2 separate regions of the Homo sapiens genome follow, and region 1 is linked to region 2. A link means that fine-mapping ties the variant in region 2 to the plasma level of a protein whose gene starts in the linked region. Region 2 holds a variant in brackets. A gene starts in the other region. All regions are shown on their reverse strands.

Region 1 (15,493 bases), not on the chromosome of region 2:
TTTCACCGGTCAGCTTAGAGTCTAAGGACAGGGTTGTTCTGGTTAAATACAGATGCCCAGAGCAACATGTTGTCGTCAGCAGTCACAGCTGGGCGTGGAGGTATGAAGCAGTGAAGATCAGCATAACACAGAGTACCTGGGTCGAGGTACCAGGGAGAGGGAGGCAGTGGGAGAGTCCAAACTCTCTTTTGGCATGTCTCAAAGTGTGCATCAAGTCATCTGAGGTTCTTGTTTAAAAAGGCAGGTGCCTGGATTGCACTCTAAAAATTCAGATCCACTTAGTGCAGGAATTACTGCTGAGGGCGGAGACCCGCGCAGAGCCAGCTCTGGAATGTGCGCCCTCTGCTGGCAGAAATTTTATTTGACTCATCTAAGCCACTGCATGAGAACCCATGAGGGGTTCTGCAAGGAAGCAAAAGTACCCCCGCTCATTTCAGGAGGCTGAAGCTACACCCTGGGGTCCTTCCTCGAAGGCGAGGTCCACAATCAGTGAAATCAAAGATGAGTTTGGGGGATTTCCTCTAAAGGCTGCCATATCTCCTCACCTTTTCCCTTTTTCGATAACTGAAATAGCAGGTGCATCTCTAAGATGTGCAGCTTGACATGCAAAAACAAAGGCAAGGCACACGGGCCTTGAGCAACTCAAAAGATTTTCTGCTGCAATCAAGACATCACATCATTCAGTCAGCTGGGAAACACTACAGTCCGGCCTGCCAGGGTGTGAGGCAGGAGAACACGAGGTAGCCACAGGATAGCCCTGGGCAAGCTGGAGTCCCACCTCAGCCTCGGATGCTGAGTCTCAGTCTTCCAGAAATCTAGCCAAAATTACTAGACCACTTTTGGGCTGTAGTAAGCCATAAACAGATGGACTACTATTCCCCAAAGAATGCTAAGGTTATTAAAGCCCTCGGCTCTGGGTAAGAAGAACAAAAAGCACCACTCAGCTCCTTTCTGGCCAAGCCACTCTTCCCTGAGAAAGAATTCGGAAAAACAAGTCTTGCCTCACATTAAACTACACTTACTCCTGACCTTGACTCCTCTGTCTCTTTACCTCTCACAGAGAATTAATGGAAAGAGTGAGACTAACAAAGAGAGATGGAGTCAAAGAGAGAAGTGCTTCCTTATGAAGATTAGATAAGATGTTGAAACCAATAGGAGGGGAAGCACAGTGATGGAGTGAAGAATCAGAGGAAAACATTTCTGTCTGCCTGAATTGCGTGGGGCGCTAGGAGTTGGGTGCTGGGGATGAGTGTGCTAGGTCCCTAGCACCTAGCTTCTAGTGCCCCACGGCTTTTGTGAGCTAAAGATTTCCCTGATAAATGAGACAGCCTGAATCAGCACTGGGATATGGAGTACAGTGGACTGGAAAGGGGACAGGAAGGAACATACAGATGAGAGATCTCCCCCAATTGCCATGCTTTGGGAAGAGGGCTTGGATGAGAGCTATAAGTGAGGAACTAACCAGTCTCTTGTGAATTCCAGGTAGATCAAGGTGGCACTGGGGAAGTAGACCAGGATGACCCCTGATCCCTGGCCACTGCCCCTTAGCCATTCAGCCTCACACTAGCAGCAGCAGAATGCCTCTAGAGGTGCATGTATCTCTACCAGCAACCAACAAGATGTATTGCCCACAAGCTAACCCTTCTCTTCCAGCCTTTTGTTTTTGCTTCCTGACTTTCCTTACATCTTTATTTTAGTTTGATTATACCACTAGAGAAATACTGACAAAGTGGAAAGAAAAAGATGAGAGAGCTGCATCGTGCTAAGGATGATTATGGACACCCAGATACTCCAGGGAAAACCTTGAACTCTGAACGCTGACTTGACCTTCTTCGACTGACCCTGGGACCTCAGGCAAACTGGACAGGCAGGAGGAAAGGCAGGACCCATGTGCAGTTCTCCAGCCCCCCTAGTGCCAGAGAGTTAATAAATGTCAGGAGACTTGTCTAAATAAACAAAGAGCAACCCCAGGCTCTAAGCCTGGGAGCACCGGTCTTTAACCCCAGGAATCCTTCCCAGACATGCCACGGCTGTCAGCCCTAAGTCTGACTTCACTGACAGAACCTTGTAGAGAGACAAACGATCTATACCCTATCTACTGCATAGGAATGAGGAGGTCTTAATGGCACAGCCACTGTAGCTTGAGAGCTACAGCAAGCCTTCCAAGCTGGAGATCCCTTTGCCTCTGATGTACCACCTCCCACCACCAAGCATAAGAGTGCTTAGAAAATAAAGCCAAGATATCCATACAAAAGCAAATAAACCTTGACTTATATCTCACACCTCATACAAAATTAACTCAAAATGAATTATAGACCTAAATGTAAAACCTAAAAAACTTCTGCAATAAAACATAGGGAAACATCTTTGCAGCCACGGGTTAAGCTTTCAAAAAAACAGCACGAGCCATTTAAGAAAATGATAAATTAGACTTTATCAAAATGTAAATCTTCTACATTTTGAAAGACACCATTAAGAAAATAAAAAGACAAGCCACATACTAGAAGCCGAGATTTACAAAACACAGATCTCATAAAGGACTTGCATCCAGAACATACAAAAAACACTCAAAATTCAATCATAAGAAAATAAACATCCCAATGTTTTTTGTTTCTTTTTTTTGAGACAGAGTCTTCCTCTGTCACCCAGGGTGGAGTGCAGTGGTGCGATCTTGGCTCATGGTAACCTCCCTCTCTGAGGGTAAAGTGATTCTCGTGCCTCAGCCTCCCAAGTAGCTGAGACTACAGGCACGCGCCACCAAGCCCGGCTAATTTTTGTATTTTTTGTAGAGCTGGGGTTTTGCCATGTTGGCCAGGCTGGTCTCAAACGCCTGGCTTCAAGTGATCTGCCCACCTTGGCCTTCCAAAGTGCTGGGATTACAGGCATGGGCCACCATGCCCGGCAAACATCCCAAGTTTTAAAAATCAGCCAAACATTTAAACAAAGATTTCACCAAAGAAAAGATGGCAAATAAATAAATTTTTTAAATGTTCAATATAATTAGTCATTAGAGAAATGCAAACTAAAACTGTGATGACATACTATTACATGCTTATTAGAATAGAATCACTAAAACAAAACCAAAAAAAAACTCTACCAAGTGTTGTAGAGGATTAGGAGCAGCTAGAACATTCGTACATTGTATGAATGTAAGATGGTACAGCCACTTTGGAAAACAGTTTGGTGATTTCTTATCCAGCTCAACATATACCTGCCATGTGATGCAGTGATCCCACTCCTTCTGTTTATCAAGAGAAATGGAAACATATATCTTCCAAAGACTTCTACGTGCACGTGTCTAGGAACTTTATTCATAATAGCCTAAAACTGAAAACAACTTAAAAGTCCACCAACTAGCAAATGGTTAAACAAACTGGAATTCCATGGTCCATCCAACGCACCACTACTCAACAATAAGAAAGGAACAAACTTCCAATATATGCAAAAACATGGATGGATCTTAAAAGCATTATGCGACAGAGGGTGGACACAAAATATGACATTCTGGAAGAGGCAAAACTACAGGGATAGAAGTTAGATCAGTGATTACCAGGGGCTGGGAGGGAGTCATTTTTCTACAAAGGGACACAAGGTAATATTTAAGGATGATGGAAATGTTCTATATATTTCTATTCCGGCGGTGATTACATTACTGTGTATGTTTGTTAGGGCTCATCAAACTGTAGACTTGATGAAATTTATTGCATATAAATTATACCTCAATAAATCTGACTTTAAAATGATAATAAGGACAAGAGTTAGCAATATGCCTGCGGGAATTAAGTGACTTGTTGCATGCTGGTTCCCGCAGTTGTCTGGATTTCCCCTCCCTTCTTCCTGCCCCACCACAGAAGCACGGCAGTCCTCCCGCACTTTCTGGTGAGACTCAGGTGATGGGACCAGCACTAGGCTAGAGACCACTCAGGAGGGTGGGAGGTCCAGGTGCCAGTTCCAGTTCAGCTTCTGATGTTAACTGGGGCAAGTTACTGAGTCACCCTCAACCTCATTGCAAAATGAGGACTTTTCACTTCTTTCCAGGCCTATGATTCTAATTTGTAGTCTGAAAAGGAATGAAGGCTATCCAATGAGTGGTGTGTCCACACCGTGAAGGTCTGGGGAAAGGACAGGGCCCTAAACCCTCCCATTCTTCAGAGGCCCCTTTTTCTACCCTCAGGTACTGTAGTGGGCCCTCTGACCCTCACCAGCCTTAATCCCCAGGAGTTCAACAAGAGAAGCAAGTGGTTCATCATCACCCCATAAGGCCACACCCTGTGATTCTTATAAATGAGGCCAGTAGACAGTAGCTTCCAAAATTCTTTCAGTATCATATGCACTCTGTTGTCTTAGCAGGCATGGGCAGATCCCATTTACAAATGTTTAAGAGCAACGCAGGATCCCCACACAAAACAGCAGCCTCCACCTAGGCTCCAATATCTGACCCACGGGAGCTCCACTCTTCAGCCTCCAGGAAGACACCCTACAAGACATGCTACACACCTCTGCAAACACAGTGTTCTGAGCTCAGTTTCTGGTCCTGAATATCAGAGTTTAAATTTCCATTCCACCGCTTACTAGTTGTGTGACCTTGGATGAGATATTTAACCTCTCTAAGCCACAATTTCTCCTTCAGTAAAACAGTGATAATAATAGTCCCCATCTCCCAGGGCTATTGGGTTGATTAAATAAATCACTGTGCATCCAGTTCTTAGAACAGTGTAGCAAGCACTTAGTGTTAGTTATTATGATTTAATTTCACTTAATTTGAAAACTGTCATTTCTTGTAAGTCTTGGCAAATGCAGAGGTTTCTTTATTAATGTTCAATGTCAAAAGATGAGCTATCTTGGGGTGAAGAGAAAGGTTGCTTGTGTTGAACCCAAACTAGACTCAGACTTGAAGCTGCTACTCAGTTTTTTCTCACCAGAGGTAGGTGCGGATGGGGAATTTCCAGGTTGATTTTGAATCCAAGACTTCTCCAACAATGCTATACTTATCAAAAGTAGATTTAGGAGTATGAGGAGATAGGGAGGGTCATCCAAATAAGACAGAACCGCTCCAGTATGCCTGCACCGTGGCCACGATACCTTCAAAGTACTGTCTATGTACCAATTTCTGTTGAGGAAACAAGGTACAAAGAAACTCCCATATGGATACTAGCAGGATTTGCTAGTGTCTGGGGAAGATTATAAATTAGCTAGTTGCTGCTCACATCAGAGCCAAGCAGGGCACATTCAGTTTTTTAATCTGGACCAATTTTCCGGATCAAAAACTAGTCTTTCCAAGGGATGTAAATGAGCCCAGGAGGGAAATTTCCCCTGAAGTTATGAAGTAGCTGTCATTTTAATCTGAGAAGCTTTCCAACCTGAAAGCTAGTGTCTGGATAAAATTATAAAGTAATAAAAATAAAACTCTTCTAGGTTGAACCTAGTCTAAACACTTCTATCTCAAATTTGATGTAATTAATATGCCAAAGTATTTAAGAGGTGGTGTTTCCACTATCAAAACCCTATCTATGCTTCAAATAAAACCAAAGAGGCCAGCATGGCATATTCCTGGCATGAATATCAGAATGAGACCCTGAATGAACCAGGTAGAAAATCTTTTTAGGAGAAGAACTCCAAAAAATAAGAAGGAAAATATGATGACCCACATGAGCAGTTTTATACAACAGGTTTTTATAAAATGCTTTTTAAAAATTCCCCTTAAATGGATTAAAATATATCCTTTAAAAAGCATTGCATACACTGTTCATGCTTTAAAACTATAGATATAACTATGCTTTGTTTAAAAATTGTGACAATTAATAGATGATTTCATGTGAATAAATCTGCAAAATGCAATTGATCGTGATGTGGTTATCTTAAGGAGGAAAGTTAGAAAGAAGCCCTTCACTGAAATCCTTGAAGGTATATGTATGTGTGCGTGCAGGAAGAGAAACAATTTAATGTGATATTACCTTGGACTGAAGCTATTATCTCCAAAATGAATTGAAGAGCTCATAAATGGAGTGGCTCATAATTTAAATATGGTGTAGATTATGATAATGACCTTAGATTTCAAGGCAGGTAACAAGTGCTGGTAATAAGAGACACAGTGCAAAGACTGAGGACGCTTCCAGAGCCGAAATGCAACAAGTCATATTTCCAGATAGAGAGTTTCAATGCGAAAATATTTAAGCATTCACATGGGATCCCGCTAAGACGATTTTCTCTGCCCTCTGATAAATTTTCCTAGCTTTGCCTCTTTCTTACAGAAACGTTTGTGAAGACAAACTGCACTTTCTGTGAGGTTTTGCAGACTGCATTCAAATAAAAGTAATATTGTTTTCCATTGTTCATAAGATATAATTAATCCCATAAGACAACCTCCCTTACAAAGTAAGTTAAGACAAAACAGATTTTTCAGAATTCTAAATATGGTCCCAGCAAAAAGTAATAAAAATCGTTATTTGGGAAACAATGTTTAGAACTTCATTGTTCAGAATGTTCTACTTTGAATAATCTCACAGCATAGGCCAAATCAAAGTAGACCAAAATAAACGAAGACTTTTTACCTATATGCAGCTAGAGGAAACACACGTTATTATGGTTTCAAGTTCTCCCCCAATTCCCAGTCCCTTATAACAGGTTACAACGTACATTTCTTTGTTTAAATGCCAAAGCAAAGACAGGAGTTCAAAACACGGTAAAATTAACCCACTGGGTGCTTCCTTCTGAACAAATGGCCCCAGAGTGGAAGAGGATGCTAAGAGCAGAGTCCACATCCCTGCACAACGCGTGGGCAGGACCCGAGATGGGCAGAGGGGGCTCCAGGCAACCCTTCAGACACTTAACAGGAAATGGCTGGGCTCTGGACAATATGAATTGAGTAAAATGTTTGGAGACGCAGGAGGGGCTGGTTTGACTCCTCTGCATGGTTGCCATCCTCTGTAATTGAGACAGCACGATCGCTGTCCCAACTGTCAGCTCTCTGCGGTCAAACACGGGGACCACCACCTCTATCTACTATGTCTGGAAAATTGATCATTCTTTTAATAAATAAATATCCCTAGCGCCGCCCGGGCTCGGGGGAGGGCGAGGTTTGCGTCTTTTCTCAGCTCCTGGCAGAGCTGAAGCGAGTTAAGCAGACGTTGGTCGGGGAGAGGGAGGCGGTGCGCTGCCCGCTCTGTGTCCTCGCCCCGGAGCCCAGCAGGGGCGCTCGGGGCGTGGTGGCTCTGGGCGGAGGAGCGCATTACCTGGTTTTCGGATGGCCGCTCGGAGCGACACCGCGCCGGGTCCGAGGCTGGAAGCCAGGAGCAGGAGCCGGAGCAAGACGCCTCGGATTAAATCCATTTCGCAGCCGGCGCCTGCAAAGTTTCACCAAGTCCCGGGCGCACACGGAAAGGGCGTCTCCGGGGGCGCGTGGGGGACGCGGCCCCAACGGATCCCCGGGCCGGGGCGAGGAGGTGGGGGGCTGCGAGGGCTGGGCCCGGAAACACGGGTAGTTCCAAGAGGTAGGACTGCAGCCGGGAGGTCGGCGTGCGCGAGTGAAGCCGGCTGCAAGCTGCAGGGCTTTTCGCGGGGGCGGGGGCGACGAAGGAGGCCGACTGGGAGGGAAGGGCTGGCCGCGGGAGGGAGGGAGGCTCGACCGGCCCGGGGATGAAATTACAATCGAGTGGAAGTGAGAGGGACAGGCCCTGAAACCTTCACTCCTCGCCCACCTCGGAAGCAGACAGCCCGCCCCTCACCCTCTCTAGCGACCCCCAGCGCAGCCCTTCCCCGCTGGTGACCTAGATTGGGGACCTGGGAGGGACCGACTTCAAGCACTGGAGACGCAGGGCAGGAGTTAGGCGACTGCGGGTCCAGGACCCTCCGCGGTCCTCACCCTGAAATCTTGGGGCGCCCCCCCTCCACCCCACCTGGGCCCTCCTCCTGCCGCGCCCCTCTAGGCGACTTTTTCTAACACCTCAAAGGTTGCTGTAGTTGGTCCAGCGCACTTGGGGGATGCGAGGGGTAGACGGGGGTCTGTGATTTGCAAGTGGGGTGGGGGTGAGAGGAAGAGAGGCGGGACCGTCCGGGTCTGAGGCGCTAAGAAGATAAATGGGATTTAAGGCTCGCAGATGGAGAGCTGAGGCCAGGCCGCTCAGACTGGGACGCCGGGTGGAGATTAGGGCCTGGAGCGGGGGAGTGGGGGCCCTTCCCGGCAGAGGAAGGCAACTTGAGACCCTCCTGGGGAGGAGATGAAACTCCAAGTTAAGCCTGGCGTCTTAGGGAGGGACGCGAGCTCGAGCCCCCAGGCGGACCGAGAAAAGCCCCTGGGCGGCGCCCAGCTGGGCCTGGGGCAGGGGGCCGGGGCGGGGTCCTGGCCTCTGATCCCGGGATCGGGCTTCCTGGGTTGTCTCCTGAATGGAGAAAGACTCTTTCTCCGCCGCTGAATTTGCTGCCCTAGGACTCAGTAAAATGTACCTTTTGCCAGATTTCGCGGTAGTGCCTGGAGAGGGGAGACCCTGCCTGGGACACAAGTCCCGTTGCATACTGGCGTTCTGACCTCCAAACCAGCGAGAAGAGAAAGCAGATACAATAAATAAACCAAGAGGGAATAAACTTAGAGGCAAACGCGGCCCTCGGCAGTTCCTGGGGAAAGATCAAAGGCCGTAGGAAGTGCCCCGCAGAGGAAATCTGCAGTCACTAGCGACAGGACCGCGCCCGCCCCCTCCCCACCTTGCAACGCTGCCAGGACTCGGTGGGCGTCCTGGCTCTTCACAGTTAGCCTATGTTTGGGAGCGCGGGAGGAAACAATGTTGACTGATATATTCTTCTCCCCTCCCCAGCCCCCCAAACACACACACACAGGATTTCTACTCCTCTTTTAAGAATGAAATATCCCCTGGCTGGAGAGTTTGTAATGAGCTCAATCTTGTTAGTTAGCAAAGCTGAGTGTGTTCCCTTATGTGTTGGCATTTTCAAGTGTGCAATTGTCTGTTCACAAATAAATTCAAAGTCCCCTCCAACTTGAGTATTTGGAAGTTTTAGCTGTGACACCAGAGCTTGTCCTCTTACATAGAACTGGAGCAAAGTTCAGACAGAACTATGCTCTTCACGTCCAAGGTGACCATAAAGCCGGCCACTAAGCTAAGCAAAGTGACTGCCCCCAAGGCTGCTAGTCTCAAAGGTCTCAAAATCATAGACTTTTTAGCATTTTAAAGGTCATCTAGGCCATGCCTCCACTCCACGCAGGAGTCTGCTTTCAGCATTGGTGTCGGGTCGTGCCACCTCCCTTTGAACTCCACCTGTGTGAGAGAGCTCCTCCAGCGCCAGCTGAGAAGTTGTTAGAGGCCTTTCTTTATGCGAAAGTGATTTCTTATCTCGGACTTAATGTGGCACCCAGAACCAAGCGAGTGTTGCAATGCAGATGCCTCCCATGCAGGCTTTCCTACTTAAAAATGATTCTCTGTGATGCTGAAACTGGAAGTAATAATAATCGTTGATATTATGGCTACCATTTATTTAAGGTCTCCTATGTACCAGACCTTCTTTGAAGTGCATTTTAATCCCAATAACAACCATACCAGGAAGATACTGTCATTACTATTCTCGCCTTTTACAGGTGAGGAACCTGAAGCATGGGAAGGTTAAGAAACTTGCCCAAGGTCATGCAGCTCCCATGCAGCGCTTGAATCCAAGGGGTCTGATTCCAGCTTTCAGGCTTTTGAGAGAACAATGTGGAAAGTAAACACAGCAGTGGACTGAGAGGATCGGGAGATGTGGGTGTTTAATCCTAGGCTCTGCGTATAGTGTGCCTTGGTAAAAATGAATGGGCTGGACGAAACAATCAGTAAATTCCAGGTTTTGCTTTCTCTTTAATAGCTGATAAAACAGCATCATCTAATCTAAGCTACCTTTACTCTGCATGTGCCTTTTAACAGACCCTGTGCAAATTGTCCACTGCAAATTTCGCAAGCCTGGGCAGCCTTCTTGCCAATGTCCTCCTCATGTGCCCACACCACCTCGGCATCCCTGGCCCTGGGCCTCCCTTCCATTTTTTTGCAGATGACCATAGGCGATTTGGGAAATAGGCTTGGTTTCTTCAGAGACCCCTCTTGTTTTTTCCTTGGGGAAAAACAACATTAGATTATACTGTTGTATTTTTACCTCTGAGGGCCTGCAAACACTCTGGATCATCAGGCCATTGAGATAAGACCTTATTTCACAAAATCTGCTTCAAATCTAGAGCACATGTTACATTAAACTTATTCCCTTCCTTTGCAGTTCAAATCGCATCCTCCAAGGGAACTGGAAGATTCCCTCTCCTTCCAGTTTGAAAACCAACTATGGCATTTGTAAATCTGACTAAAGACAAATAGAACACTTGCCTTTCACTCTCTTCCTGCTTTCTGAGAGGAGGGGAACTAAAGAGGGGCCAAGAGGCTTTGAATGTTTCATTAAAAAAAAAAAAATCTGTTCAAATTCACTGGAGGTCTAAACTCAATTAATAAGGTCACCAGCAGAAGAGTGACCTGCCTACTTTGCTCATTATCATGGAAGAGGAATCTGACCTTTGCTGCATGGAATAGATTTGGAGGCTGGTAGAAGAAAGTAAAGGCAAACTTATCAATTATAGAATGTTTATTAAGACTCTAAATGAGAGTGACAAAGAGGCAGCAGCCAAGAATCATCTTTTGATTTATTTTTCTAAATTGGTTATATCTACATGTAAAATTTGAAATGCAGATCAGGCAGAGTGTATAGTGAAAAATAAGTTTCCTTTTCTTCCTTCTACCATCACCAGTTTCTTGGATATCCTTCTAGAGATGGTCTATGAATGGACAAGCTAATTATATACACATATATTTAACGCAACCAAGAGCATCTTCTACGTACTTCTTAACCTGATGATCCTTCCAAATCAGCAGATACAGATCTGCCTCCTTCTTACTAACTGCTGAATAATATTCTACATGTGATATGTAATTTATTTGTTCTTTCTTCTGTTGTTTCCAATTATTATAAACAGCAGGCATGAATGACACTGAATATGTAATAAGTTGCACATGTTATAGTAGACTGTAGGGTTCATTTCTAGACTAACCATGCTCGGTCAAACAGTAAATGCCTTTTCAATTTTGATAATTTGGCTACATTTCCTCCCAAGGAGGTTGTACTATTTTACTCCCCAATAAGCAGTATATGTGCCTAACTAATTCCGTGAACTCTCACCAACGTAGTGTCTTATCAAACTAGAAATATAAATATACATATATTTATATGTTACATTTTAATCAAGATGCAACATACAAAAGTATCAAATAGTAAGTGTACCAATTGATGAATTATAGCAAAGTGAGCACACTTGTATAACTTTATTAACTACTGCCCAGATCAAGGAATAGGATATGACCAGCACCCCCACAAAGCCCTCTTCATGCTTCCTCTCTAGAAGTGTGTATTTTTGAAGAAGGATGAGGGATGAGAATTCTAACCTCCCATTTACCTTTAATTAAAACACACAAATAAAAGTAGATCAGTAAAAATAAGTAAACACTCTCCCTACACCAATGTAAAACAAACATTGAGACTGAATCCCATTATGTGTAAGTCTCTGTGCTAAGAACAGAAATAATATATTAGAGAAAATGCAACAATATTTTTTGCACTCAAGAAGACTACAAATTTGTTGGGAGACGAAGACAGTTGCACTGTCAATTGTTCCATAAAGCAGAACAAAGGAAGCCCTAAATAAGAGTGCAAATAATGTGCTATTGGGTTGAGTGACAAAGACCCTGTATTACAAATGATAACATATATAATAAGATACTGTATAATGCATAGCCATCTGCTATGCATTATGTCCTCCTTGCTTATACTTGATTATAATTAAGTATGTAATCAATGGACTGCACTGACAAAGCAAACGTGTAATAAACCCCCAGATCAAGAAATAAAACAATACCAGCACCCCAAAAGCCTTTCATTCTTCCCACTAACTGTAACCTACCCTACAACCAAATAGGTAACCATTTTCCTGATTTCTAGCACCTAGATTATTTTGGCCTGGTTTTGAACTTTATATAGATGGAATCATGCAGTAATGTAATCACTTATTCCTCTTTTACTCAACATTATGTTTGAAAAAATTCATCCAAGTTGTGTGGTTATTCATGTTCATTGCTGTGTAGTATTCCATTATAGAAATGTATCATAATTTGTTTATCCATTTTACTCCTGATAGACATTTGGGTTGTTTCTAGTTTGGAACTACAACCGAAGATGTTGCTGTGATCATTCTTGTATGTGTCTGTGGCAGACATATGTATGTGTATCTGCTGTGTATACCTGTGAGCAGAATTATGAGGTTATATGATAGGCATATGTTTAGGTTTGGAAGGTATTGTCAAACAGTTTTCCAAAGTGGCTATATTCATATACACTCCCATCAAAGTATATGAGAGTTCTAGTCATTCAAAAATCATACCAACACTTGATGTTGTTTGTCCTTTTCATTTTAGCCATTTTGTTGCATGTTAATAATACCACATTGTGGTTTTAACTTGTGTTTCCTTGAAAACAAGTCAAGCACCTTTTCACTTCTTTATTGGTTGTTGTATATCCTATTTTGTGAAGTGCCTATTCATGTCTTTTGCCCATTTTTCTATTGGGTTTTCTACTTATTTCTCATTGATTTGTGGAAATTCTTCATATATTCAGGATACAATTTAGAGGAGTTTTTCTGTTGTAGTTGAATATATTGGTAATATTTTCTTCACTCTGTCTTGGCTTTTAACTCTCCTGACGACTTTTAATGAACAGAAACCCTAGTTTTAATGTAGTATGATTGATCGATTTTTTTCATTTATGGCTAGCAACTTGCCCCAGGTCACAAAGACATTATTCCATTTTTTCTTTGAAAAGCTTTATTGCTTACCTTCTACATTTAGATCTGCAATAGATTTTTATGTATGATGCGAGGTAGTGCTCACAGCCTTTTTAACTTGATGCTCCCTCCTGATTTTGATATGGGCAGCTGCATCTCCACAGGGAGGAGATGTGGTTTGCAGGATGTGGCTTCTGTGCTGTATCTTCTCTGCCAGCGTCAGCCAAGCTGAGGCTCAGGGCTAAAGCTAGGACTACACATCTCACCTGGGATAAGCCCTCTAGATTGCCACCCTGCATTATGTGTTTTGGATGAAGCTCTATGTGTTTACAACAAAGCCAATCTGCCCCCAAATATCACACTTAATGAAGTATTTTACAAATATCTTCATGAAATTTCTGTCGTTTGAAATACTCCCATGGGTTAAAACTATGACTCATTTATGACTTATAGCCCTTCTATTCCAAAAATCATGGGGGAGAAATGTTTTAAGAACTTTTATCCAGGTGGTCCCTCTTAAAATAGACATATGTTTCCTGAAGGGGAAGGAAGGGCTCATGAATACTGTGCCTGTTAACACAGTGGGGACTCATTTATTAGCTCATTTAGCTGTCACTTAGGACAGCAGCTCCAGGGTCTACAGCAAGTAGAATAATACATGAGTTTAATAGTAATTTGGGAAGGAAAAATTTTCAGAATCTAGGATATAGATTGTTAGTAATAGCAAACCCCTGAAAGCAATAAAGGTAGCCATCATTGGAGAAGAGACTGGTAAAATAAATTGTGGAATGCAATAAATCACTCTACATCTGTTTAAAAAAAAAAGTGGGCTTTGGCTGGATGCAGTGGGTGACTTACGCCTGTAATCCCAGCACTTTGGGAGGCCCAGCGGGCAGATCACTTGAGGTCAGGAATTCGAGACCAGCCTGGCCAACATGTTGAAACTCCATCGCTACTAAAAATATAAAAATTAGTCGGGCATGGTGGCAGGTGCCTGTAGTCCCAGCTATTTGGGAGCCTGAGGCAGGAGAATCACCTGAATCTGGGAGACAGAGGTTGCAGCAAGCCAAAATCATGCCAATGCACTCCAGCCTAGTCAATAGAGCAAAACTCTATCTCAAAAATAAAAAAAAAAAAAGGGCTTAGAGCTTCATGTGCTACAAGGAGAAAAGTGAATCCAGCAAATTTAGGCAGTGCAAATGTGTTAATGAGTGTGGGAAGAGCGCTGGAGTGTCTGAGGTGAATGGGGGAAAATTAGCATTGTGTTATTTTTCACTGCTTATGTTTTTAATCATAGGAAAGTCTATTTGGGTTCAAAAGAAAATATGAATTAATTTTAAAAGAATATAGGGCAGTCTAGGTGGAGTGCTTGGTGGGACAGGAAGAAAGATGGAATCTGAGAAACCAAGAGACAAGATATAGATCCTGAACACCTTAGGAGAAAGAGAGGATGAAGAGCTGGAAACTGGCACTCCCAAGGGGGAGGTGGGCATGAAAAGCAGACCTCACAAGTTATATGGTTCTGTCTAGAGCTGCCAGATTGGATGAGCAAGAAAAATAGACATGCACACGCCAGGGTCTCTCCCTGTATTTTCAGGAATATGGAGAAGCCATCGTCTTCCTGAAAATACAGGGAGACCCCCTGTCGTGTGCATGTCTTGAAGATGTCAGGGATCCTCCAGGGTCCTGTGACCTCCACCTAACCATGAACCACACAGGACACAACAAAACGAGAGAGCCCCAAAGTGGCCAAATGCAACTGCGTACCATACTAACAGGCATCTCTTTGGAGACTCACACACAATTTCAAACTCAGGGCTAGTTTGTGAAATGACATGGCAGCAAGGAGATCTCCACAGAGTAGAGGTCAGGAGATCTGCACTCTCGTTCCATCTCTGTCACTATTGTCCGTGGGACTTTAGCAATTCCATCAACCACTCTATCCCTTATTCTTCTCCTCTGGGAATTGAAGATGTCAGATAAAATGCCGCCTCAGTCTGTCCCAGGGCTCACGATCTCCACTCTCATGACAGAGCTGCTTTCCTTTTCCCAGGACAGGCAGATGTCACTTGTTAAACACAAAAGAGTCTTATAAATTTTTTTATCAGGAAAAACTTTGAGGTTGGAAAGCAAGTCTCTAGCCAAAAAAGGAAAATGAAAACAAAACAAAATAAAATGCAGCATTTAATACACACACACAACACACACACACAACACACACACAACACACAACACACACACACACACAAAGATGGCAGGACAAAAGCAATGCCTTGCCTCTGAGATGGTTGTAGGAAGCTGACTCACGGTTTCCAAGCCAGCCCTATTTAGTCCATCCAGAGAGCGGAAATGGCAGGCATGAGAAGGGAGGGAAGGGAAGACTCCTGTGGGGAGGTGAGCGTAGGAAGCAGAGAAATGCTGGCTTCGTTTCTGGCTTCTTCTGCAATGGTACAAACAAATGCAGATTTTCTGATGCCAAGAAAAAACCTGTAAAAAGAAGCAAAAGGCCAGTTTTTCAGTCTGAGTTTGATATTTTTATGTGTTTTTCTTTAAAAAGAAATTCAGCTTTTATTTTAGATTCGGGGGTACGTGTGCCGGTTTGTTAAATGGGTACTTTGTGTGATGCTAAGGTTTGAGGTACGGCTG
Region 2 (14,343 bases):
GGCAGATCACCTGAGGTCAGGAGTTTGATACCAGCCTGGCCAACATGGTAAAAGCCCATCTCTACTAAAAATACAAAAAAAAATTAGCCAGGCATGGTGGTGCGGCCCTGTAGTCCCAGATACTAGGGAGGCTGAAGCACAAGAATCACTTGAACCCGGGCGGCAGAGGTTGCAATGAACCGAGATAGTGCCACTGCACTCCAACCTGTGCGACAGAGTGAGACTCCATCTCAATAAAAATAAAAATAGGCCGGGCACAGTGGCTCATGCCTACAATCTCAGCACTTTGGGAGGCCGAGGTGGGAGGATCATGAGGTCAGGAGTTCGACACCAGCCTGGCCAACATGGTGAAACCGCCATCTCTACTAAAGATACAAAAAAAGTAGCTGGGCGTGGCGGCGTGCACCTGTAATCCCAGCTACTCGGGATGCTGGGGCAGGAGAATTGCTTGAACCCAGGAGACGGAGCTTGCAGTGAGCCGAGATCACACCACTGCACTCCAGCCTGAGCAACAGAGCAAGACTCTGCCTCAATAAATAAATAAATAAATAATAAAAATAATAAATAAATAAATAAGACATTTGATGTGGTAGGAGTTTACATGTTTGTTACTGGTCTAGATTCACCTAGATTCACACTTTGTAAAAGCAGAAATACTGATTTATGAACCTCTAATAGCACCACTATTTAGCAGACAGATATTTTTGGATGGGGGCCGGGGGGAAGGTATCACATCATTCTAGGTTTTCCTGATTATATGAAGAATTAGTTAATTAGATTAATTGGACAATGAAAACCCAGGTGAAGGGGAGGCAGCCCCAGACTTTCACCGCTTTGTGCTTCTGACATTCGGGAGCCCCTGAGGACCAACCCCTCATCCAGGGAGCCTGGGTCCTCAGCTGGTGGATCCGTGAAACTCTCATCTCCGGGGGAATTGGCTCATGTGCTCCCGTGTCCCAGGCTGCACAGACAGCACACAGGGCTCAGTGACCTCTGTACTGGGGACCACTTTCCTTGCAGATCCTGAGCCCTCAGGGTGAAGGAAAACTCTCCCCCAAATGACTCAAGAGCAACATTTGGATTTGTAGAAAGCAGGAAAGCTGAAATAATTCATTAAGAAGAACGGAACGAACACTGCTACAGAGGAAGAGTTTACTAAGGAACTCCTTAGAACTCATGTCAGGAGACAGGGGAAGATAAGAATGCCGAGCCCATGGGAGAGGCTGGCTCAGGGTACTTCTCCTTTGCTTTGATTCTCAGGAGCAGCTGATACCCTCAGCCCATCACAAAACAATTCAGACCCCAAGACTGGTGCGTGAGGAGATGCTTTCAGTTATGGGGCTGGCACAGAGGGTCAGGTCCTGTGAAGGGGAGGTGGGTGCCCTGGGTGGACATCCAGAGGTCCTGGGTGATGTTGATCTGCCCTGACCTCTGTGGTCTCTTTGCCCACCATCCCCAACCTCACACCCCCAGGATTACACAGTGGAGAATCTCATCCACATGGGCAAGGCTGGCTTGATCCTGGTGGTCCTCAGGATTCTGTTATTTGAGGCTCAGCACAGCCAGAGAAGCCCCTAAGATGCAGCTAGGAGGTGAACAGCAGAGAGGACAATGCATCTCTCAGAGTGGTGAAACCTTGGGAATAGATATGGTGATCCCAGGAGGTTCCGGGAGACAATTTAGGGCCAATGCTATCTGGACTGTCTGCTGATAATTTCTAGAAGGAGGAATCAGTGTTGGATTGCAGAGATATTTTGCAGGGTGATCCATGGAGGACCATTAACATGTGATACCTTTCCTCTCTATTAATGTTGACTTCCCTTGGTTGGATCCCCTTCTTTTCCCACCCCTAGACATGAGGCTACATCCCACATGGCAGGGCTGGATCCACACCTCTGCACATCTGTGTGCTCTGGTCCATGGTGTGTAACACAGTCTTCTTTATTCCTCATTGCCATACTCCCTGGTGTGCTTTATTGAGCCTCCATCTCTTCAGTTCAGAGTTCCAAACGTGCTTCAGTAACTAAATCAATGGGAGAGTATCAGATTTCAACCAGGAAAAGATAAATCCACCCTGATGCCCTGACACCCTCTCCAAACCCTACAAGCCCTTCCCTCCTTCTCAGATGCTACCTGTGTATCTTCTCCTCAGATCACTGTGTAACCATCACTGCCATCCTGTTCCACACATTGTCATCATCCTACACCCATTCAGCAGCCACTCCCCATTCCCTCTTCCCTCCAGCACCTGCTAACCACAAGTGTGCTTTCTGTCTCTACGGATTTGCCTATTCTGTCTGAAAACATTTCAATCTCCTTTGACCTGTGAGCTCCTCACTTCGAGACTTCCTGCCTTTCCAGGCAGAACCAAAGTACACCACGTCAAAAGCAATGATAGGCATTTGCAGTGTGTTGGTGATCCACGAAAGGAAAATCACGGAAGTAGGATAGAAATCCAGCTGCAGACAAGACCTCAGGTCGATGAATCTTGTCAAGCAGTTGAGCTGTTTCTTTCTACTCACCTATGACAGTCAGACAGAAGTATGCAAAATGACTGGGGCTGATTCTTTTCTGAATTGTCCCAAACAGCAAGAGGACTTGAGTCCTAGCATTAAAGAGTTCAACATATCTAGGTCCAAGACGACTGTTGTGTTTGAAGGATGTAAAGCTTTGCTGTATAGGATAGAATGTTTGGAGGGAGGATCCTGAGAAAACATGAAGGACCAAATATTCACAATCTACTCTCTAGAATAAAGAAATCTTATCATTCACCATCTACCCTCTAGAGTAAACAAATCTTATCATTTGCCGTCTACCCTCTAGAGTAAAGAAATCTTATCGTTCGCCAGTTACCCTCTAGAATAAAGACATCTTATCATTCACCATCTACCCTCTAGAATAGAGAAATGTTATCATTCACCATCTACCCTCTAGAATAAAGAAATCATATCATTCACCATCTAACCTCTAGAATAAAGAAATCTTATCGTTTGCCATCTACCCTCTAGAATAAAGAAATGTTATCATTTGCCATCTACCTTCCAGGATAAAGAAATCTTATTAAGGACATTTTCAAAGCCTTAACAGAATATGAATGATTACAATATTATGTTTTACCTATACAGCGTCTTCCAAGTTCTAGTTTGGTTGTGCCAGGCCAAACATTTGAGCCAGATTTCGGCAAGATCAAGCAGGAGACTCTGGCATCTGTCGCTGATTACCTTCCCACCATACCCGGCCACCAGCCTTTCCCATGGACCCCCACATGTGTCTCCAGACTCTCGGGTACGAATCCTGTGAACACACTGACCTCCGCCTTCTGCATGACTGATCAGCAATATGAAATTTGCATAAACACAAATAGAAAATATACTGTCCCCACATTCCCTAAAATAAAACTGGGTCCTCGCCCATGGGCTTTTGCTGGATTATACTAACAAAAGGCAGGTCTTATAACACACATTCCATAGACTCACATCTCAGAGAATGTTGGTTCCACAGGCTCAGGATCCTGAACACACTGCTCCACTCTCAGGGCTCAGAGACATTCTGCATGTGGGTCTTCACCCCATTCGGGAGCCCTAATTCCTTCTTCCTCGGTTTTTCATACAGTGATTTTTCCCAGTCATCTTTAATACCTTCTTTTTTTAAAAAAATAAATAAAGATGAGTCTCACTATTTGCCCTGGCTGGTCTTGAACTCCTGGGCTCAAGTGATCCTCCCCGCTCAGCCTGCAAATCCCTTCATGCCCAGCCCTTACAACTTCATTAAAACACAAAATTTTAGTTTTTATTTCTAAAACTTTTTGGATTATGTTACATTTTGTTGAATATTAATATTTCCAATAGATATTTTACTAGTATACCTTTCTTCACTTACTGATTGTAAATTATCATTTCATTTTAGATGGTACTATTGTGTTTCATGCCTAGGTGTGATTGGGGTACTGGGCTATTTAACTTATCCTTCAGTGGATGAATTACTCTTTTACATACAGGATTAAAAAAAAAGAAAAATTTGGAATAACTTCACCTATTTAGTTAAGTATTCACTCAATTATATATTTTCGAATGAGGATTCATTTATCCTTGCCTTTAGAGAAGACACGTTCTAATTCCACTGTAGCTGAACTCTGAGTACTCACATGTGTACATGCACACTGACTCATACATGTGTGCCCGTGTGTGGTTGCATTCATGTGGGCATGTCTGTGTGTGATTTTCAAATACTTGCCTGTTTCTCACTTACATCACTGTGGCATCTCATATTCTACATTTTGGATTCATTGATTCTTTTTTTTTTTTTTTTTTGAGACGGAGTCTTGCTCTGTCGCCCAGGCTGGAGTGCAGTGGCACAATCTGCGCTCACTGCAAGCTCCGCCTCCCAGGTTCACACCATTCTCCTGCCTCAGCCTCCCGAGTAGCTGGGACTATAGGCGCCCACCACCACGCCCAGCTAATTTTTTTGTATTTTTAGTAGAGACGGGGGTTTCACCGTGTTAGCCAGGATGGTCTCGATCTCCTGACCTCGTGATCCGCCCTCCTCGGCCTCCCAAAGTGCTGGGATTACAGGCGTGAGCCACCGCGCCCGGCCGGATTCATTGATCTTCCAACTGGATGATATCATTTAAAATTGCCTTCACTGAGCATGAAAACAGTAATATCTAGTAACTTGCAGCTCAGAAAATGCCTTCTTTTTCCTCCCACTCTCTCTATCAAAATAGATGAAAACATTTCTGTATTAGTTAAAGGGTAAGTATAACACCTGGAAGAGAAAGCACATCTGATGATTTGAGAGATCCACCCTCCAATCCCTCCTCAGCCCTCACGAAGGGGAAGCCCAACCAGACAGCTTCACAGGTCCGTCTTGCCCTGAGCCTTCTTCTGTTTAGGAATTGGTCCCCTGCTGACCCCTTTACCTTTCAGGTATTAACCTGAGTAAGTATAGAATTCCTCACTTGCAGTTAGTCCCCTGAGAGTACTCTCTTAGCATCTCCTTCCCTTATCTTTTTACTATCGGGAAGTCCAGTCCCACTGAGAAGCAATGCTATTGACATGTTGAGTTGAAAATCACAAAACACAAAAATGCATTTTAAATTACATAATTCAGTCTAGCATATGTATTTTTTAATTTACTCCTATTTTTCAGTTTATCATGAGAGGTCAAGATTTGCATTTTGGCCAGGCGCGGTGGCCCACCCCTGTAATCCCAGCACTTTGGGAGGCGGAGGCAGGCGGATCAGGTGAGGGCAGGAGTTTGAGACCAGCCTGGCCAACGTGGTGAAGCCCCATCTTTACTAAAAATACAAAAATTAGCCGGGTGTGGTGGTGCGTGCTTGTAGTGCCAGCTACTCGGGAGGCTGAGACAGGAGAATCGTTTGAACGCGGGAGGTGGAGGTTGCGGTGAGCTGAGATTGTGCCACTGCACTCCAGCCTGGGCGACAGAGTGAGACTCTGTCTCGAAAAAAAAAAAAAAAAGATTTGCATTTCATGCTTAAATGTATGCACACTAGTGACTTAATTACTTCCTCCCTGAAGACCCCAATGGCACCAGACACAAATGCTCTGTCAGTTTTAATTTTCTCTTTAATGCAGGCGCTTCTCCTTCTGACAAGCTTTCATTTCTCATTTTCTGGACATGACTGTGATAACGGGGGTGTTGATGAAATATTATGAGAAGCATCTCTCAAGGGCAGGAACAAAGGGGCTCTCCTTAGTGGAAACATCAATCTCAGGCCTTGATGGTGGGCGCCAGCATCCCTTCATGCCCCCACCCCTCCTGTCTTCACCTGCTCTGGAAATTACCCATGGCTGAGCCCCCTGCAGTCCCCAGGCTCCAATGACCCAGCTCCCCTGTGATAAATGGGGTTCATCACAGGCTCCAAATGAGGAAACCGAGGCTCAGAAATGGGAGGTTACTGCCCAAGGTCACACAGGCAGGGGGTGACACATGAATATTTAAATAAAGACAAGATTTCCCCTCAAAGCAGAGTGCTAACCCCACGTATTGTCCCAGAACCTTGAACTCAGGAGCACAGGATGGGAACAGGAGTGTTTGAAAGAAGACAGGGGCACCAAGAAGGCAGAGTCAGGTCAATGTTGTTTCCAGGGAGACGGGGGCAGATGCTGTTGCGATGAGTGAATGAGAAGTTCGTGAAGGGAACGTTTTTGCATAAAGAAAACCCACACTCCAGTTCTGGGGAAAGAGTCATGATTCCTTCCCTTGTCTCCATGTATTTCCCTTTTCTGTTCATCGCCACAATAAAGCTCAACTGGAACTGCACAGCAAGATGCGAGATGAGTCTCTGCTGATGTGAGTCTGCCCCGCAGCCTGAATTTGCATCTTCCCTGAAGCTTCCCCAGGACTGGTGAGAAGACTGGCCATGGTAGGTTCCCCACAAGGGTGTGTTTATGGGTGAGCTGAAGGAGAGAGGGAAACCCCACGAGGAGTCTCTGAGAGGAAGGAAGAACCCTCCGTTGCCTTCACCTGGAAGGGACCAACTCAGGAAGGCACCACGTCCATTTGCAGCTACGTCCCGGCCCTCAATGAGACGAGGACATGTCAGGCAGACAGTGAAAGGAGATCAGGAGAGATGCCATGCGTGTCTGAAATATCAGCAGAAAGCCTGGTGCCTGTCTCAAAGGATGGTTCAATATATGCAAGTCAATAAAGGTGACTCACGACATAAACTAAGAACAAAAAGCATGTGATAATCTCAAGCGATGCAGATAAAGCATTCGAGAAAGGCCAAGTCCTGGGAAAACATGAGCCAGCGGGGTCCGGGACAGCTCACCACCCATGGAGATGCTGGTGGGAAAATCCTGTAAGTGGGAGTAAGGAAGGAGACCACTACTACTCCTGCTGCCCTCCTCCCCCCACCTTGCCTAGTTCACAAAACAGGAAGAGAGAAAAAGCCAAAAGTTGGAAAAATACAAAAGTAAGATAAATAGCCAGACAACCTTGGCACCACCACCCGGCCGTAGGAGTTAAAAAAAGTAATAATAATAACATCAACCCCTGACCTAAACTACTGGTGTTATCTGTAAATTCCAGACACTGCATGAAAAAAGCACTGTAAAACTTTTTGTTCTGTTAGCTGATGCATATAGCCCCCCACAGTCATGTTTCCCACGCTTGCTTGATGTATCACGACCCTTTCACGTGGACCCCTTAAAGTTATAAGCCTTTAAAAAGGCCAAGAATTTCTTTTTCGGGGAGTTCGGCTCTTAAGACGCGAGTCTGCCCACGCTCCCAGCTGAATAAAAACCTCTTCCTTCTTTAATCCGGTGTCTGAGGAGTTTTGTCTGCGGCTCGTCCTGCTACAGGAGAGCCCTGCCTCTCTGTGCCATGACTGTCACTCCCATGGCCATGGTCCACTTCACTGAGATTTGACGAGGGGAAAGGGAGATTCTAGCATGAGAGGGACCCTGCCCCACAGATAGGCCCTGGTCCAGTAGGAGACCCCAGGGGCTAGGGAGGATCCCATTCTCATTTTCCTGGGAAAATGTTTTCACTTCTCCCCATTCAATTTGATGTTGGCTGTGGGTTTGTCACGCAGGGGGTGTTGGTATTTTGCGGTATGTTTCTTTCATGCCTAGCCTGTTGAGGGATTTTATCACGAAGCGATGTTGGACTTTCTTGAAAGCTTTATCTGCATCTATAGAGATGATCATATGCTTTTTGTTCTTAGTTCATGTCATGAGTCACTTTTATTGACTTGCATATATTGAACCATCCTTTCTTCCCTGGAATCAAGCCAACTTGATCATGATGAATTATGTTTTTGATACACTGTTAGATTCCGTTTGCTAGTATTTTCTTGAGGATTTTTGCATCTGTGTTCCTCAGATTTCTTGGCCTGTAGTTTTATTTTTCTGTTGGATCCTTGTCTGATTTTGCTATCAGGATGATACTGATTTTGTAAAATGAGCTGGCAAAGAATCCCACTTCCTTGATTTTTGGAATACTTTCAGTATGATTGGTACCAGCCCTCCTTCGTACATACAGCTAAGTTCAACTGCGAATCCATCTGTTCCTGGACTTTTTTGCTGGAAGATTTTTAGTACTGATCCTTTTTCATTGGTTGTTATCGGTCTGTTTAGAGTTTCTATTTTTTGCCTGTGCAATCTTGGGAAGTTGTGTGTGTCTAGGAATTCATCTATTTTCTCCAGGTTTTCTAGTTTATGTGCATAAAGGTGTTCATAGTAGTCTCTGATGATCTTTTGTATCTCTGTGGTGTTGGTTGTAATGTCAACTTTATCATTTCTGATTGTGCTTATTTAAATCTCCTTTTTTTGGTTAGTGTAGTCAGCCATCTCTCAATTTTATTTATACTTTCAAAAAACCAACGTTTTCTTTCATTGATTCTTTGTAATGTTTTTGTGTCAGTCTCATTCTTTATCTGTCCTTTCAGAGTTTCCATTGTTTTCAGCATCCATCACTAGCGAGCCAGTGCGATCCTTTGGTGGTGCCACAATATTCAGATTTTTCACGGCGTCAGAATCCTTACACTGATTCCTTCTCATCTGGAGAGGCCTCCACTTACTCTCTTCGAATTTATTTTCGTTTGGATGGGATTTCTTTTGCACATTTTCCCCCAGCCCCGCAGGGAGGGTGACTGTAGAGCATGTTGGGAAGGGTCTTTTGGCTTTTCCCATGGCTTTGGGAGCTTCTGCAGCAGGGTTTGCATTGGGCTGTGCAGCTCAGATTGCAGGCCAGGAGCTGGTGCTTAAGGGTAAGAGCCACGCTCGGCACAAGCAGGTGGATGTGGACCTGGTGTGTTTCCTGTGAGGTGCTGACTCTTGTTTCAGGGGAAGGGCTGGACCGTGGAGTGTCAGGTGCCCTGAGCTTCCTGTTCCACAGGGGCGAGGGAACACCCCTGGGCAGAGCTGGAACCCCCGGCTTGCCCACAGATATCCCAGTGATGAGTGCAGGCACTAGTCCTGATGGACATGGCTGGAGCAGCTCCTAGTGAAATGCCCTGAGGTCTCTGCGGGGAGTGAAGGAGCTACACCGTTTCCAGTCCCATAGGGAGGAACGTTGTCTGTCTCCCTATCACACCCGTGCTCCAGGGCTCATGAGTCTCAGTTCAGACACACACTCTTGTCTCTCCCCAGGCCACAGTGTGGCTGAGGGCAGTGGGAAACACCTGCCTTGCCACTCTCTGCAGGCGTGGTTCCAAGGCAGAGCCTCCTCCCTCAGCCCAGTGCAGACCCTGAGCGGCTGTCTGTTGTCTGACGCGGTAGCTGCTTCATGTAGGTGGGATGTGGGGCTTCTGCCTCTCTGGATGGGAGAGTGGACGTCAGTTGTGGTGGTGTTGCTGGCTGGGTGGGCCCGACCTCAGGCCCTGGGGTGAGTGGTCAGGTGCCAGCAGGTAGGAAAGGGCAGGTAGTTCCCGGATCACAGGCCCCTAGGTGGCCGGCTGGACAGCGTGTGTGAGTCCTGAAGGGGCTGGACTGGGTTTCGGCTGCTCCGGGGTTCAGATGCTGGCTGTGATGGGGAGGGATGGGCTGGTCCCCAGGTCACCGGCAGAACCTTCAGGCGGGGCAGGCAGAAGGCTCAGGTGGTAGAGCCTGCGGCAGATCACAGGCCTGTGGGGACTGGGCTCTCAGAAGGGCTGGGGGCTGCAGCTGAAATGTCCAGGTGGGGGCAGGGTGGCTGTGCTGTGGGCCTGTCACTAGGGAGGGCAGCGCCCCTCGGCTGGGGCACTGGAGACTGGCAGCTGTGAGGCACAGGGCCCGCTCACACTTCCCTCCTGAAGAAGTGTCACTCGGTTTTGCTCTGGGGACACGTGAAAGTGCCAGGCCTCCCCACACCCTCCCTGGGCCTGGGGCAGCAGGGGCAGAGGCAGAGGTGGCAGTGACTGCAAAGGGCTTGTCAGGGGCCTCTGAGCATTGGGCTTTCAGAGGGCACCGAGCCAGGGCCACGGTGTTCGGGTGGGGGCAGGACGGGTGACTGGGGCCCTGCAGCTGGCAAGCCCCATTAGCAGGAAGGAAGCCCCATTTCGCAGGAAGCAACAGAGGTGGGCAGCTGTGTGGTGCTCAGCTTGGCTGCTCCTGTGCCCCAGCTGTCATACTTATTCTGGGGCCCACAGAGGTGCCTGGCCTCCTCCCTCCCTGCTAAGGCAGTGGCAGCTGGACCCAGGCTGCTCAGGGATCAGAAGCCTGTGGGATTCCACGTGGGCTCCAGTGGGGCCTTGGTACAGTCTCCAGGAGCAAACTGTGGGCCTCTGGAGGCCCAGAGGGGACAGGCGCTCTCCTGTGGGCAGGATCCTAAGGGCCCACAGCAGAGGTGTAGATGCCAGGGACCCCTCACTCACTCACCCCTTCCCTGTGTTAGGGAGGCTCTCACTCATTCACCCCTTCCCCGTGTTAGGGATCCTCTCACTCACTCACACCTTCCCCGTGTTAGGGATCCTCTCACTCACTCACCCCTTCCCCGTGTTGGGGAATCTCTCACTCACTCACCCCTTCCCCGTGTTGGTGAATCTCTCACTCACTCACCCCTTCCCCGTGTTAGGAGCCTCTCCTGGCTCCCACCTTTTCTCTTCTCTTCTCTCCATGTCCTCATGTTTCTCAGGTGAACCCCAGCATCCTCTTGGAAGATCCACTTGACCTGTTGGTATTTACTCGCTATTTTGGGTCCTCTTAGTGAGTAGGCAGACTCCAGCCCTTTCCATTCAGCCAACTTGAACCTCAGCCCCCAGTCATTTTCTTGCACTTTTTACTCTTGGGAAATCCAGTCCCAATGTGCTTGTCTTTCATTGGACAATAATTTTCATTTTCTCCAGTAGTTTTAAAATTACTTTGTATCTATTCTAGGTATCTTTTACTCTATCATAGTTAAGACATTGATGTTATTTATGAATTTGTTCACGTTAAACTCATGTTCTTTCTTCATTTCTATAAAAATGTCAACCATTTTCTTTGCAAGTATTTACTGAATAACATACTCCTTATTTCCTTCATTCTGAAAGTGTGATCCAAAGAGAGATATCTGTTTCCTCTTTTCATTCCATTTCTTGTGTGCATTAATTATCTTTTCTATTTTTTTCATTTCTAGTTTTTCTCTGATGACTAATGAAAAATTTTAGTAAATATTCTACACCAATACAATGTTTATCATTTCAGCTGTGTCTTGTTCTGGATGAAATTATTTCTAAATGTGTTAATATAATTTACTATTTTCACATCACAATAGCTTCCTAATTCATTTCTACAATTGCCTGTTTTTTCTCTAACGGACTCTTTGATTTTTATTCCTCTGGGGTGGGTTTTTCTCCCACACACCTGATCTTCCATATAGGGTTTCTCCCCAGGCTGACTCAGGAAGGAAAGCTGATGAGGGCATTGCTGTAGCCGCTCCTGCCCTGCGGTGTCCATGCTCCCAAGCTTAGAATCACCTCTGTGTTATGCCCGGCATGGCGGGGTCCATGTGAGCCTCACACTCCAGGGTCAGAGATGCCCGGTCCAACAATGATAAAGCGCATCTGTGTCATGCACACCCGGGAAGGTGGCTCAGTGCTGAGTGTAGCCCGGGTCACTGAGTCATCCCAGGGTCTGTCCACAAACACAGAAGAGGGGGAGTCACAGTCTCTAAGGTCCCACAGTTTCCTCCACTTTTTTCCTTGTTCTGAGAGTGAGACAAAGGGCCATGACTGTTCTGTGGGTTGGACAGATGCATGTTTCCACCTGCAGGCTGGAACCCAAGCTGAGGTCTTGAGCATCCCCAAGTACTGATAAAGCACTTTAGGTTGTTTCTAGAAAACACTGAAAAATTAACCCTTTTGCTAAAAGTGTAGAAACAAGCCCTCCCCTGAACCAAATTCCTGAAACTCTCAGGTTAAACTTCGTAACCCCATCCCTTCACTGCAGACTCCCAATAGAAAAGTTACAGGTGCAAGGATGAGATGACTTTGGTCAAACTCAGACCCCACAGGGCCAGGAAGGCCTGAAGGAGAGGAGGCCCATGCTTCCACGTCTCAGATAAGAACTGTTTCTAAGGACTTTTAAAAAACCCATAAGAAACTCTTCCATGTCCTTCAGCCCCTTCTGCTTTGACAAGGTTTATCACTAGATGTTCTTTAGGACGTCAGGAATTCAGATAAGATGCTCTCAAGAGAACCATTGACCAGCAACAGCATCTCCTCCAATGGACTGACAGCAACTCTGGCTTTGAACCTGTGGAACCAGGGAACTCTGTTTCCAGGCAGCTCTGTCAGGCTCTCCCTTGTTGCTGATAAGAACTTCCTTTACCTCTCTATGTACAGAGAGCTCTCTCTACGGTGCTTTTCCTCTACTCTCACGTCACAGGAATCATCAACACAGAAAAAGACTTCTAGGACCAGATGTATGGGGTTTTTTTCCCCAGACGCAGTAGCGAACAGCAGCTGGGTGTCCTCTAAGTCAGCTCTGGTGCTGTCTACCCAGAGACAGTCCCGGATCCCACAGATTGAAGGCCCATTCCCCAAAACTGCCCCCAACACCATTCCCAAGTCCAGACCTCCAGAACTTCTGACTGACTGGCTTCAAGTTGGGGATCCCATGCCCCACTCTTTGGGTTTGATTAATTTGCTGTAGCAGCTCACAGAACTCAGGAAACACTGACATTTCCTGGTTGAATACAAAGCACACTGCAGAGGACACAGATGAAGAAACTCATAGGAGGAGGCATGGGGGAAGAGGCCCGGGGCTTCCATACCCTCCCTGGGCGTCGCCCTCCAGGAGCCTTAGCATGCTCAGCCACCCAGAAACTCATGAAACCCAGTCCTCTGGGGCTTTTATGAAAGCTTCATGACATCAGCATTTCCTCCCACAAGGAACAGGGTGAGACTGTCTTCTGGGAGGGTCTTAAGATCCACTATCAGAAAGGCAGGGAACATTCGAGTCTTACTTTGGGTTAGGTGAAGGAAGGGCAGGAGGAGGTCAGAGGCCTCCCCTGAGGCCCAGCACAGCCAATGTTATAACAAAAGACTATAACAAGGGCTATGGGAGTTACAAGCCAGGAACTGCGGGTGAAAACCAGCATATATCACAACATCACACTTCCCTCTCTGGACACACTGTGGCTTGCCATGCCATGCACTCCATATTGTAATCCTTGCTTCTCACTCCCAAATAAACTCAAAATCCAGGCAACCCTGGAGCAATGCAGCCTTGAATTCCAGGGGTCTCTTATATGCACACTTTTTCCAAACAAACGGGGATCAAAACTATAGCATTTGTGAGAAACAAGACTTGCGTATATGAACGGCAGACTTTTCCTATATGCAGACCCAGCAGAGACAACGTCAGGGCTGGAGTACGAGCAAGTGTTGGTACATGTAGGGGGTACTGAAACGAATTGCCTGTGTATCCCAAGAAACAACTGTACTGAGAGATCATATTTTCTAGGGGTTTATTTTTGGTTTTGTTTTTATTTTAGGTTAAAGCTTTGGATAGAATACCCAGTGTCTCCTTGTCCATCTGAAGAACATGCTGCTATGTGGAAGCACATCCTTGAGATCCACAAGGAGACACTGGGCAAGAAGACAAGGATGCCCCACTGTGCAGAGGTCCCCCTAATAAATGCTCTATGAACACCCTGGTGTTTAGTGCTTCTTTCCTTGGAATTCCAGCAGGTCTGGACAGTTTGGTGCACTCCCTTGAGGGAATTCCCCTGGGCTGCTTGGGGTCCACTCCAGCCTCAGGTGTAGCTAGAGGACGCAGCCTCCCACCTTGGTCTGGAGCCCTGAGCCCCTCACTGTCATTGCAGATCCCGGGGTTCCTCTCCCGGCTCCACTCAGTGGTGGAAACCTCCACCCTAATGAGCCCTTGATGGTCCCGGGACCCTGTGGCATCTCACCTCTGGCCTCTGTTCTTTCTTGTGAGTCCGTCTACACTTGGGGTTT[C/T]CACATGTCTTTTTCTGCTCATGACCTTGATACTCTGGGTATTTCAGAAATGCTACACATACGTTTCTCCATTACGGTCAGATGTGACATCTTGAGTGGACTCATCAATCACCTACAGAATGTGGAGTCCAACAGCAAGATCCTCTCACGTCCCAAAGCCTCAGGTCTTACCCTGGTCTGGAAATCAAGCACAAATGAGCCCCTCCCAATGTCCCAGGCACCACTGACCCCACAACCACTGTGACGAGTGGGATTCATGACAACAATCTGCAAAGGAAGAAACTGAGGCTCAGTGATGGGACATTACAAACCAAGGTCACGTAGGCAGCGGATGATAACCAGTCATCAAATAAATATCAACTCCCTCCCCCACTCCCCAAATCAAAGCTCAAACATAAGTCATTGTTCCCAAAATGTTGACCAGGAATTGAGGTGCAGAGGGACGGCTAAGGACG

Direction of the effects. Alleles are on the strand shown, and positions count from the first base shown. The strength of an association depends on the size of the effect and on how common the allele is.
As copies of T replace C in region 2, the plasma level of the protein whose gene starts at base 7,525 in region 1 goes up (strong association).

What was found. PIP is the chance, under the fine-mapping model, that this variant and not a neighbour inherited with it causes the effect. Protein levels are from antibody-based Olink assays in UK Biobank. Linkage for the fine-mapping came from a reference panel and not from the study's own genotypes, which makes the PIPs less certain.
Region 1: it holds the start of EGFLAM, and the variant in region 2 is fine-mapped to the plasma level of the EGFLAM protein (UK Biobank, PIP above 0.99).

What each region holds. Positions count from the first base shown.
Region 1 is chr5:38,250,591-38,266,083 of GRCh38, reverse strand. EGFLAM (EGF like, fibronectin type III and laminin G domains) reads right to left here and starts at 7,525. Exons shown (of 22, transcript NM_152403.4): 1 at 7,233-7,525. The coding sequence starts at 7,329. LOC124900966 (a long non-coding RNA gene) reads left to right here and starts at 7,418. Exons shown (of 2, transcript XR_007058739.1): 1 at 7,418-7,490; 2 at 8,453-8,987. RefSeq lists an enhancer at 8,394-8,895.
Region 2 is chr19:54,281,284-54,295,626 of GRCh38, reverse strand. It overlaps MIR4752 (microRNA 4752), which reads right to left and starts at 13,518; the gene lies at 13,447-13,518. RefSeq lists an enhancer at 9,671-10,172. The variant C/T (reference allele first, on the strand shown) is at 13,889.